2 separate regions of the Homo sapiens genome follow, and region 2 is linked to region 1. Evidence: fine-mapped expression QTL. Tissue or cell type: whole blood. Region 1 holds a variant in brackets; the other region holds the start of a gene. All regions are shown on one strand. Distances are between the middles of the regions.

The links. PIP is the estimated chance that this variant, and not a neighbour inherited with it, causes the effect.
Region 2: it holds the start of TAF5L, and the variant in region 1 is fine-mapped to the expression of TAF5L in whole blood (INTERVAL, PIP above 0.99).

What each region holds. Positions count from the first base shown.
Region 1 is chr1:229,575,934-229,581,310 of GRCh38, reverse strand. No RefSeq gene overlaps it. Among named protein-coding and RNA genes, the nearest start is that of ABCB10, 20 kb to the right of the region's middle. The variant C/T (reference allele first, on the strand shown) is at 2,166.
Region 2 is chr1:229,623,798-229,629,174 of GRCh38, reverse strand. It overlaps TAF5L (TATA-box binding protein associated factor 5 like), which reads left to right and starts at 3,053. Exons shown (of 5, transcript NM_014409.4): 1 at 3,053-3,290. It overlaps URB2 (URB2 ribosome biogenesis homolog), which reads right to left and starts at 2,928. Exons shown (of 10, transcript NM_014777.4): 1 at 2,819-2,928; 2 at 1,416-1,554. The coding sequence starts at 1,541. RefSeq lists enhancers at 2,355-2,434, 4,095-4,144, 4,989-5,377 and silencers at 2,625-3,324, 3,415-3,604.

The sequences.
Region 1 (5,377 bases):
TGCTGGGATTATAGGCGTGAGCCACTGTGCCTGGCCGAGTTGTACATTTTAAGAAGAGGAATTGTATGGTATGTGAATTCAATAAAGTCGTTACCCCCCAAAATTGAAAAAGTAAGATGCAACGGCCTATAATTGGCAGTAATTCAATAATGCTTATTGAATGATTGAGTAAATGAATGTGTGGCAAAAGATAGCTATTCATTCATGAAACAAAACTGCAGTCTGGGTTCCTTTTGACTTTGAGGAGACTTCAGCTCAACTGTCTGTAGGACTTTTAAGGATGAATTTATTGGAAGAGGGTCGCAAATATTAACTCAATGCACCAACTTTTGTGTTTTGAATTATTCTTGTTTCTTTTGATGTTTTTTAAAATGAGACTTATGCTCATAAAAGTGTATCCAAAATTTTTTTGAAAGGCAATTTTTAATGCCTACCTACTCCATGCCATAAAATGCTCTTTCTTGATTAAGCCAATATTACTGGATTTATCAATATTTCAAAGTTTGTGACTTTCTATAAAACAAAGTTCAAATCTGAATTAACTCACAGGTTGTTCCGATGGCTCATAAATTTATGTTGGTAAAATACTTTTGCCTCCCAGAATAAAACCAGGCCAGGTGCGGTGGCTGATGCCTGTAATCCCAGAACTTTGGGAGGATTGCTTGAGGCCGTGAGTTCGAGACCAGCCTGGGCAAAATAATGAAACCCTGTCTCTACAAAAAAAAAAAAAGAAAAAAAAAATTAAAAAATAGCCAGACATGGTGGCATGTGCCTATAGTCCCAGCTACTCAGGAGTTAGAAGTGGGAGTAGCATTTGAGCCCAGAAGTTCAAGGCTGCAGTGAGCCATGATTGTGCCACTGCACTCCAGCTTGTGCAACAGAGTGAGACCCTGTCTCTAAAAATAAAATTTAGATTTAAAAAAAGAAGAATAGGCCGGGCGTGGTGGCTCATGCCCGTAAACCCAGCACTTTGGGAGGCTGACTCAGGTGGATCGCCTGAGGTCAGGAGTTCGAGACCAGCCCAGCCATCATGGTGAAACCCTGTCTCTACTAAAAATACAAAAATTAGCTGGGCATGGTGGCAGGCGCCTATGATCTCAGCTACTCAGGAGGCTAAGGCAGGAGAATCATCACTTGAACCTGGGAGGCAGAGGTTGCAGTGAGCCGAGATCACGCCATTGCTCTCCAGCCCAGGCGACAAGAGTGCAACTCCAACTGAAAAAATAATAATAAATAAAACCATAGGTAAGTATAATGAGGGACAAGATACTGTAATTTCTGCTCAAGCTAAGAAGAAAAAGGTAAAGCAATTTGGGGAGATATCAAGCTATAAGTAAATGCCCAGAAACATAGTGTGCTGTACATGTAGTAATCTACTTCATGATCATTACCTTTGTTAAGGGCTCATTATATAAAGGCATAACAGAGAAATCAAAAACAAACAAACAAACCCCATCTCCCAAAAGACAGAAAACTGTCTCCTTAATTAGAAGCATTTCTCTTTAATTATAAACTTTTTTGAATCCTCAAAAAAAAAGTTCATGGATTTTGGTACTATTGAGAACCTGTCACAACCAAAGTTCAGCTCACTCTTCAGAGAGCCCTCTTTATTTCTTATCTTCCTCTCTTTCTCAGCCATTTCCCACATTGTTTTCAAGCTGTATGTCTTTTCTTTCCTGGCTGAGTTCCCAAGTCGTGATCATCGCTTAGTGTCTGACTTGAGACTCTGTTAGGGGTGGGGTCCTGCTGCCTGAAGCACAAAGCATGGCAGGGTCGGGTTCTGGCGTGTGGTTCCCAGCAAGGGCGCTGAAGACAGGCAGCTCTTCCCTGGCATTCTGCCCTAGCACAGAGTGCGCCATAGATCCCATGAATGGCTGTCCTGTGAACAATGAGAGGACAGAAGGGAGCTGTGCAGGCTTCCTTCCAGCTGCAGACGCCAAAGCATACAGAGGGCCTGCTGACTGCAGCTGGGGAGTCCTGAAATGGCCTTGCATTTATGTGAAGTGCTCATCCAAGCTGCGATCCATAACAGGGCCATTATAAGGACACCTGAGATTCTCTCATTTACTGCAGCACAGCCTCTTGCCAGTGTCTCTCATCCCGCTCTGCTGAGCTCTGAGCAATATTTAAATGAATTGGAGGCAGGCCAGGAGTTATTTTCCCTT[C/T]CCCTTTTCTCTATTTTCTGACTTCTTCTCTCAGGGCTTTCTGTTCTCATGACACAGTTTTTACAGCCAAAGGTCAGTACATTTCTTTTCAAAAGTCCCGTAGATCCGCCTTGCTCCTGGCATCCTTTCACCTTCTTATGAATGATGAAGGTGAAATAGAAAAGGTGAACCTTTGGAGAAGGAGGAAACACAATTTCTCCCCTGCGCTGCCAGACACTTCCTTTCATTTCTTTGCTGCCACACCGTGGCAGCAGATTTGCCCTTAGATTACAATCAATGTGAAGCTAAAACAAAGCTATAGTCAAATGCTAATAGATTCTTGGGCTCTGGGACATTTTCAGAGGGAGGGTGGGAGTAGACACAAGAAGAAATCAGGGTCTGGGCATGGTGGCTCACGCCTGTAATCCTAGGAATTTGGGAGGCCGAGGCGGGCGGATCACCTGAGGTCAGGGGTTCGAGACCAGCCTGGGCAACATGGCGAAACCCCACCTCCACTAAAAAAGTACAAAAATTAGCCAGGCATGGTGGTGCATGCCTGTAATCCCAGCTACTTGGGAGGCTGAGACAGAAGAATCGCTTGAAAACCCAGGAGGCGAAGGTTGCAGTGAGCTGAGATTATGCCACTGCACTCCAGCCTGGGTAACAGAGTGAGACTGAAGAAAGAGAAAGAAAGAAAAAGAAAAAGAGAAAGAAAGAAAAAAAGAAAGAAAGAAAGAAAGAAAGAAAGAGAGAAAGAGAAAAAGAGGGAGGGAGGGAAGGAAGGAAGCGAAGGAAGGACGGAAGGAAAAGAAAGAGGAAGGAAGGAAGGGAGGAAGGGAGGAAGGAAAGAGAAAGAAAAAGAAAAAAAGAAAGAAAGAGAAAGAAAGAAAAAAGAAAGAAAAGAGAAGAAAGGAAGGAAGGAGAAAAAGAAATCAGGGAATAATAAAAACTACCACTTGTAAAAATATATATTGTGTGCCAGGCATTGTGCTAGATACCAGAGATTCATTGATCAGTTAGGTAGAGGTGGTGTTCACCTGATAACTCCATTTTTCAGTGAATAGATGCCTTGCTCATAGTGGGGACTCAACATCATTGAATGGAAATGTTTGCTAGTAGGTTGAACATCAGCAATGTTTGCTCTAGATTCTCCTGCTTGTGTGTGCAATAGTTTAAGAAATTCCTTTGGACAGTAATACCATGGATCTAGCCTCTTAATGAAGAATACCCAAAGTACTCCTGGCAGAGAAACTGGCAATCACTTTGGGTGGTGGAGCATAGCCTCCTACCTCTAGATTCAGTGTTCTGCAAATTCAAAGAGGAGAGTGTTTTTTTGTTTGTTTTGTTTTGTTTGAGATGGAGTCTCTGTTGCCCAGGCTGGGGTTCAGTGGTGCGATCTCGGCTCACTGCAACCTCTGCCTCTCCCGAGTTCAAGCGATTCTCCTGCCTCAGCCTCCCTAGTAGCTGGAATTACAGGCACCCACCACTACGCCCGGCTAATTTTTGTATTTTTAGTAGAGACGGGGTTTCACCATGTTGGCCAGGTTGGTCTCAAGCTGCTGACCTCAGGTCATCCGCCCACCTCAGCCTCCCAGAGTGCTGGGATTATAGGCGTGAGCCGCCGCACCCGGCAAGAGGAGAGTGTTTAAGTGCAGTTCAGAAACTATGAGCGAATATAAAATGCTGTTACACTTAGCACTACTTCAACTAAGCCCTCTAATTGCTCCTAGATGGCACCCACTTCAGGAAGAAGTTATGAGGCCTATTTGATGGAGAGTGAATATCACACATCCAGATTTGTTCAATTGGTACCTCCATTTTTCAGTTAACAGAGAGGCTGACCTTGCACATGATAGCTACTCAGACATCTGTTAAATTGAAATGTTTGCTAAGCCTGCCTGATAAATTGTTTTGATTTGGGTTTTGCTATTTCTTGATAAATATGCCCAACAGTTTAACAAATCCCCATTAACATTAATGCCCTGGATCTAGACTAATAAGAATAAACAAATTTCCTCTCTCTCTTAAACTGAATTTCTTTAAAACGTTGCTCAAAATCAAGTTTTATGGCAAATTTCATCACTTAGTCTGAAACTTAAATCTTATTTTTGTCATGTTTTATGTGATCTGATCAGATGATATGGCCCCAAACAAAGCCATAACATCAGCTTGGCCAACTATTTTCCTTAATCACTCTTGTAGCGCTTTAAGACCACATTGTTGGCCGGGCACGGTGGCTCACACCCATAATCCCAGTACTTTGGGAGGCCGAGGCAGGCAGATCACCTGAGGTCAGGAGTTCAAGACCAGCCTGACCAACATGGAGAAACCTCGTCTCTACTAAAAACACAAAATTAGCCGGGCGTGGTGGCGCTTGCCTATAATCCCAGCTACTCGGGAGGCTGAGACAGAAGAATCACTTGAACCCAGGAGGCGGAGGTTGTGGTGAGCCGAGATCGTGCTATTGCACTCCAGCCTGGGCAACAAGAGCGAAACTCCATCTCAAAAAAAAAAGGAAGAAAAAAGAAAAACACACATCTTATAGTGGAGATATTTGCCATGTTTTTCTGCCTTTTTGTGAGCCTGACATAATCAGTGAGGAAGTAGCCAACCTTTCCAGGTATTTGAATGTTCTAGGGCCTCAAGGAATCCATTTATTAAATTGTAAACCCCCTAACTCAAGCTACAGCTCCCAAAAAGGCAGGAGGGTGGGTGGGAAGAGCAAGGTCCTCACTGCAGAGCAGCTTGGGGCAGCACTGTGACTGACAGCACATGTCTGGAGTCAGACCCATCTACATCCCAGGGCCATGAACTACTTGAGCAAACCATGTATGATTTCTGTGCCTCTGTTTCCTCATCTGTAAAATGCAGATTATCAGGCTGATGATATGATAAAAATTATATTAGTGCCAGGCTCAGTGGCTCACACCTATAATACCAGCACTTTGGGAGGCCAAGGTGGGAGGATCACTTGAGGCCAGGAGTTCAAGACCAGCCTGGGCAACATAGCAAGATCTTGTCTCTTAAAAAAAAAAATGACAGGGTCATGCCTGGATGATGGAGGTCACGCCTGGGTCATAATAGGATGTGGTAGTGCACACCTGTAGTCCCAGCTACCTAGGAGTCTGAGGCAGAAGATTGCTTGAACCCAGGAGCTCAAGGCTACAGTGAGCTATTATCACACCACTGCACTCCAACCTGGGTGAAAGAGCAAGACTCTCCAGCATGGGTGA
Region 2 (5,377 bases), 48 kb before region 1:
CTATCTATACAGGTTCCATTACGTGTCATGTTTCCTCTTCACAAAACATTGAAGAAAGCTCACAATCCCAGAACTGTCAATAACAGTATGAATAGTGACAGATGCCAGAAGGAATAAAATCTCTCAGTATAACAACAGCAGAAACCTTGATCCAATTGGCTGCTAGAGCCTCCCCTTTGTTTCACCCTGGGCAGCACCTGCCAGGTGATGGCCACGCTGCCAAGATGACTCCCAAGTGCAGCCAGGTGTAGAAAGCACTGGATATGACCGCTGCTCTCCACACCACACGTCATCATCGCTTTACATATGTCATCCATCTTGGAAGCATTTTGTGCTGTCTTCCTTGACAACAGCAACTGGATGTGTATTAATCCAATTTCATGAGCTTGTCATCCTGGTGTTTATCATGCCAACTAATTTTTAGCCTAAAAAGCCTGAGAAATTCTAACAAAATGCAATGCCTTTCTTGGTACCTAGCCCATTTCTAAAATGGCTTTATACAAATACTAACATTTCTCTACTTCCCAACCTTCAATTTATCCAATGCGGAAGACTTTTAACAAAGCACCACCAACCAACAGTTTAAGAAACATCACTTTGGATTTATAAGCAAATGCAGCTATCAATGGACTTTCAGAACCTAACTTCTGTAACTTAATTCCCAATGTGTTCATTAATGCATATACTTAGTTTGTAATATAATGTCTCCAAACAAAAGAAATGCTAAATTCGGTGGGTTCATTTATTTTAAAGAGACAAGGTCTTGCTCTATCGCCCAGGCTGGGAGTGAAAGTGGCACAATCATAGCTCATTGCAGCCTCAAACTCCTGGGCTCAAGGGATCCTCCCACCTCAGCCTCCCAAGTAGTAAGGACTACAGGCACATGCCACCATGTCTGACTAATTTATATACATATATAATATGTATATGTATAATATATATACATATATAATATGTATATGTATAATATATATACATATATATTATATATATTATATACATATATACTATACATATACTATATATATTATATATATATTATATATGTATATATACATATATATACATATATAATATATATAATTTTTTTAAGAGATGGGATCTCATTATGTTGTCCAGTCTGGTCTAGAACTCCTGGCCTCAAGCGATCCCCCGCTTTGGCCTCCCAAAATAGAGATGACAGGCATGAGCCACTGTCCCCGACCTAAATGAGGTTTTTTAACAGAAAAAAAAAATGTATTAATGAAGTACCTGACTCATTACTTTTTTCATTGACATTACATTTAACTTCCAACAAAGTTCCCTCCCCAACTTTTTCTCTATTTTTTTATTTTAACCAATTGTCAATATCCAAATTATAAAAGTGATAATTATCTTGACAGACTGTAAAAATATGAGTTTCACATTAAACTTACTTGTTCTTTATTTGGAAGAAAGCACTGGTGAGAAATCCAAGCAAAGTGAGCTAGTTTTAGTTTATCTTCCCAGGAAGTTGTCTTGCTTTTAAGCTTAAGGGAAATGCCAGAATAAACAGCAGCCATGGCTAGGCTTTATCTAAAATTTAAAAACAATGGGAAAAAAAATACTATAACAATGTCAGACTGAGCAGGCACCAGAAAACCAACAGTATTGCAGTACTGTATCTTGTTTACCTAATATGTATTCTTTTAAAAGTTTTTAATGAATCAACAGATTTGTCGGGGTAAATCTACATACAAGATGCTTGACTCCAGAATTTTCTGGGGGAAATTCAGACAAAAGCAAGCAAAAGATGGACTGCACACACAGAAGATGGACTATATGTATTCCAGCTATGATCAAACATCACTTCCACAAAGGTGAGTGTTCAGGAATTCAACAAGGCCAAAATCAGTGATTACATTACTTGTGGAAAGAGTCATTCATACATGGTTTCAAATTGAAAGAGGAAAAGATACATAAGCAATATCCGGAGAAAGTAATATGTCTCCAAGTGAAAAAGAAAACCCCAAAGGAATACAGTTATTTCAGCTGCAACAGTAACCTTCCACTAACACTTTTATTCAGTCGTGTATAAATTTACAACGCACATACACTTCAAAAAAGACTCTACAAGAGATACTTGCACAAGGAAAAGACTAAAAATAGAAAACAAAAAACCATGAAATCTCGGGGGTAGCAAACATACCAAACACCTACAGTTACTATTAAACTGGGTAAACTTGGCTTTGAGTTTCCTAAAAGTTATAGTAAAAAGGAACGTTAAGACGTTTTCATTTTAGAAATTAAGTTATCCTTCACTCTACTGCAGAGAACAAGAACGTCAAGTGCTGTCAGTTTTCCTATTTTGTCAAAATGTCCAAAACGAATTCAACGATGCCTGACTTTCTAAGTTCAATACCATAGAACCGCCATCGCGACAGCTACAAAGTGCATAACAGGTGTTTGCTGAACTGGCTACAAAGACAACCGAGATGCTCTCCCCGGCTCCGCCAGAGTTCGGCTCTCCGGGCCTCCAACCGCCCTTACCGGGCAATGCGAAGTCCAGGGCGGACAGCACAGCCCTGCCAGCACTCCCTGCCCAGCAGAAAGAGACCAAGCAACAAGAACCAGGGGAGAGCAGCTAGGAGCCAGGAGGGAGTTCGCCTTCGCGAATGGAGCGTGCCGAAGCCGCTCCAGCCCAGAGTCTGCTGGCGGCACCGGAACTGGGCAGGGTTGGGGGGCCCCCCATCTGGGCCCGGCCTTAGGTAGGGGGATCTCCTCTGGACCAGCCCCGGGTGGGGGGACTCACCTCGGGACCTGGCTGCCCGCAGGGGCTGACCGCAGGTGGGGGACTCACCTCGGGATCCGGCCCGGTAGGGGGCTCAGCTCGAGACAGCTCCGGGTAGACAGGGGAGGACGGCGGCAGCGGCGGCGGCTGCTGTCCCGGTGCGGCGGAGGCCGCTGTACGGGTCCCGCGTCCCCACCACGTGGGACCGGTACCCGCGCTCCTTCCGCCGGACGCCGGCGGCGCAGCGGGGAGGGGCTGCACGCACGCCAGGCGTCGCCAGCCGAGCGCCGAGGCGCCTCGCCCATTGGCGGAGACGGTTGCGCGTTGGAGGCCCGAGCGGCCCAGCCCGCGGCCCGCTCCGTGTCAGTCAGTCATGGAGCGGCCGCCCAGAGCGGCGGCGGGGGCGGCGGGGCGCGGGGCGCGGGGGCCCAGCTGAGCCGGCCGTCGGAGTGAGACCCTGCGGCAGAGACGACGGAGGCGGAAGCAACCCGATCCCGGAGGCGGCGGCGGCGGGGGGAGCCGGAGCCGCCTGGGATGTTCAGTGAGTGCCGGGAGCACGGGCGGGGAGGGCCGGGAGGGTCGCGAGGCGCGCGCGCGCGCGGGCGGGCGGGGGCCGGGGCGGTGGGGCCTCGGCGGGGCGCGCCTTGGCTCCCGCCGGCGGGCGGTGGGGGTGGGGCGCGGGAGGCGGGGCTGGGGGGCGGCGGGCGGCTCTGCGCGGGCGCGACGGCCGCGCCTCCGCCCTCGGCCTCCCGAGTCCCGGGCTGCGGCCGGCGGCGTGGCCTGCAGTCGGCGGCTACACCTGGACTGGCGTCGCGTTCCTGCGCAGGGGTGGGTCCTGCGGGTTGGATGCCGGGCTCGGGGAGGAGGTGGCGGGCGCCCGCGGGGAAGGTATCCCAGTGCCCGACAGCCAAGCAGGGAGCACGGCTCCACAGCTCCTTTGCATGTAGGGGAAAAGGAAATGTCTTTGCGGCGAAGTCGGGATTCAACTTTGCACATGGTGATCGTGCGTGGGTGGGTGTGGAGTCGATCTCCGCGTGTGACACGGGGGAGCCAGAGTTAGACTAGCTGCTGCAGGAGAGTGCTTACCTGCAAGGGTGTCTCTCGGGGCTCGTTGCCTCATGACAGCAAGGTAAGGTTGGTGCGCCCATGGTGTGGGACGGGTTCACCACCTCCAGCTCGCGAAGCTGCCAGGCTTTTGAAAATGTATTCGATAAGGCGTTGGTCCGAAGTGAGTGGATGGTTAGAAACAGTGGTGTCATTTTAGACTTAGCGGAAGTGGAGTGCAGGAACGCTACATGCAGTTCTCCCATCAGTTGTGAAAGTCGTTGTAATGCGGATCTCGCAGTCTTTGTGGTTCTGGGATCAGAAGGTAAGTGCCAGTCCCATGCAGTGTCTGTCTTAAATTACTGTACCTAAACTGACCTTGCAGATTGGAATCTCGGAATGGTGACTCCTGCTAACAAGCAGTTGGGAGCTGTGCTGAGAGGAACATTAAGTGCGGAGCGTGTCTTATATCAGGCGATTCAAGTGTGCCAACACCTGAGTTGGGGATGTAGGGGAGGACACGGAGGCTGTGCCCCAGTTCCTGGTCACAGCTCTACTTGGAAGGGGGAGTAGGAAAGGGAGTTTTGTGCTTAATAGGTTAAATGCATCTGGCCACATCTTTAAACTTTGGAACAGCATAATGTAGTGGATAGAGCTTGGTGACAGTAGACCTAGGATGGAAACCATGTAGCCATCTGCATAACCTCTCTGAACTGTAGTTTCCTCATCTATAAAATGCGATGATAAGGAATAACTTAAACGTGGATTTTTTTTTATCTTTAAGAGACAGGGTGCCTCTATGTTGCCCAGGCCTGGGCTCAAGCAGTCCTCCCGCCTCAGCCTCCCAAAAAACGACCTTTTTAAAGGTACCCAGAAAAAGAATGATGTGTATGAAAATAGCTAAATGTTAGCTATTATCGTTTCCTTTTTGGCAAAATACCTTCTAGGTTCCCTGTAGTCCTAAGTTTTTGCGTTAAATGGAATATATGCTAATTTTTTAATGAATCGTAAATTCTTCCTGCCTTAAAAATCAGCGCTAAGCTAGAAAATTAAAAGGTGGGCTTGTTTTGAGTATTTTTCTTTGTCATCAACAACAAATTAAATTAGTGTATCTTGGAATAGTTTTGTTGCTCCTGCCTGTAAATGTGAGGCTTATGTGAGCTTCTGTCACTGTGAAACTAGGTAAAGGCCTCACTTAACTACTCAGTAACTGGTTTTTGGTTTTGCAAGCAATATATTAGCACCTGTGAAGGACATCTCTGGGGAAAGAAAGGGGGTTTTGTTTCTGCTAATTTGTTTTGCTGGAAGGGAGCTCTAGGGGTCATCTGTTAAACCAGTATTACTCAGTGGACAGTACTAGAAGTCACGTTTCCAGCCTGTCTTGTATGTGACTGGTGGCTTCTCAGGTAGTAAGTGTTCTGATCATTCTCTCAGCAAGCTTCTAGTAAGCATTCATTGTTGTGCTCCCTCAGGAAGCCCCTGGTCACATGTAGAATCCTTTGAGCAGCAAGATGCTGTAGAAGGTGAGAGCTCAGACCCTTCAGCCAGGTGTCCTGAGTTCCCATCCTGGCACTGTGTAACTTC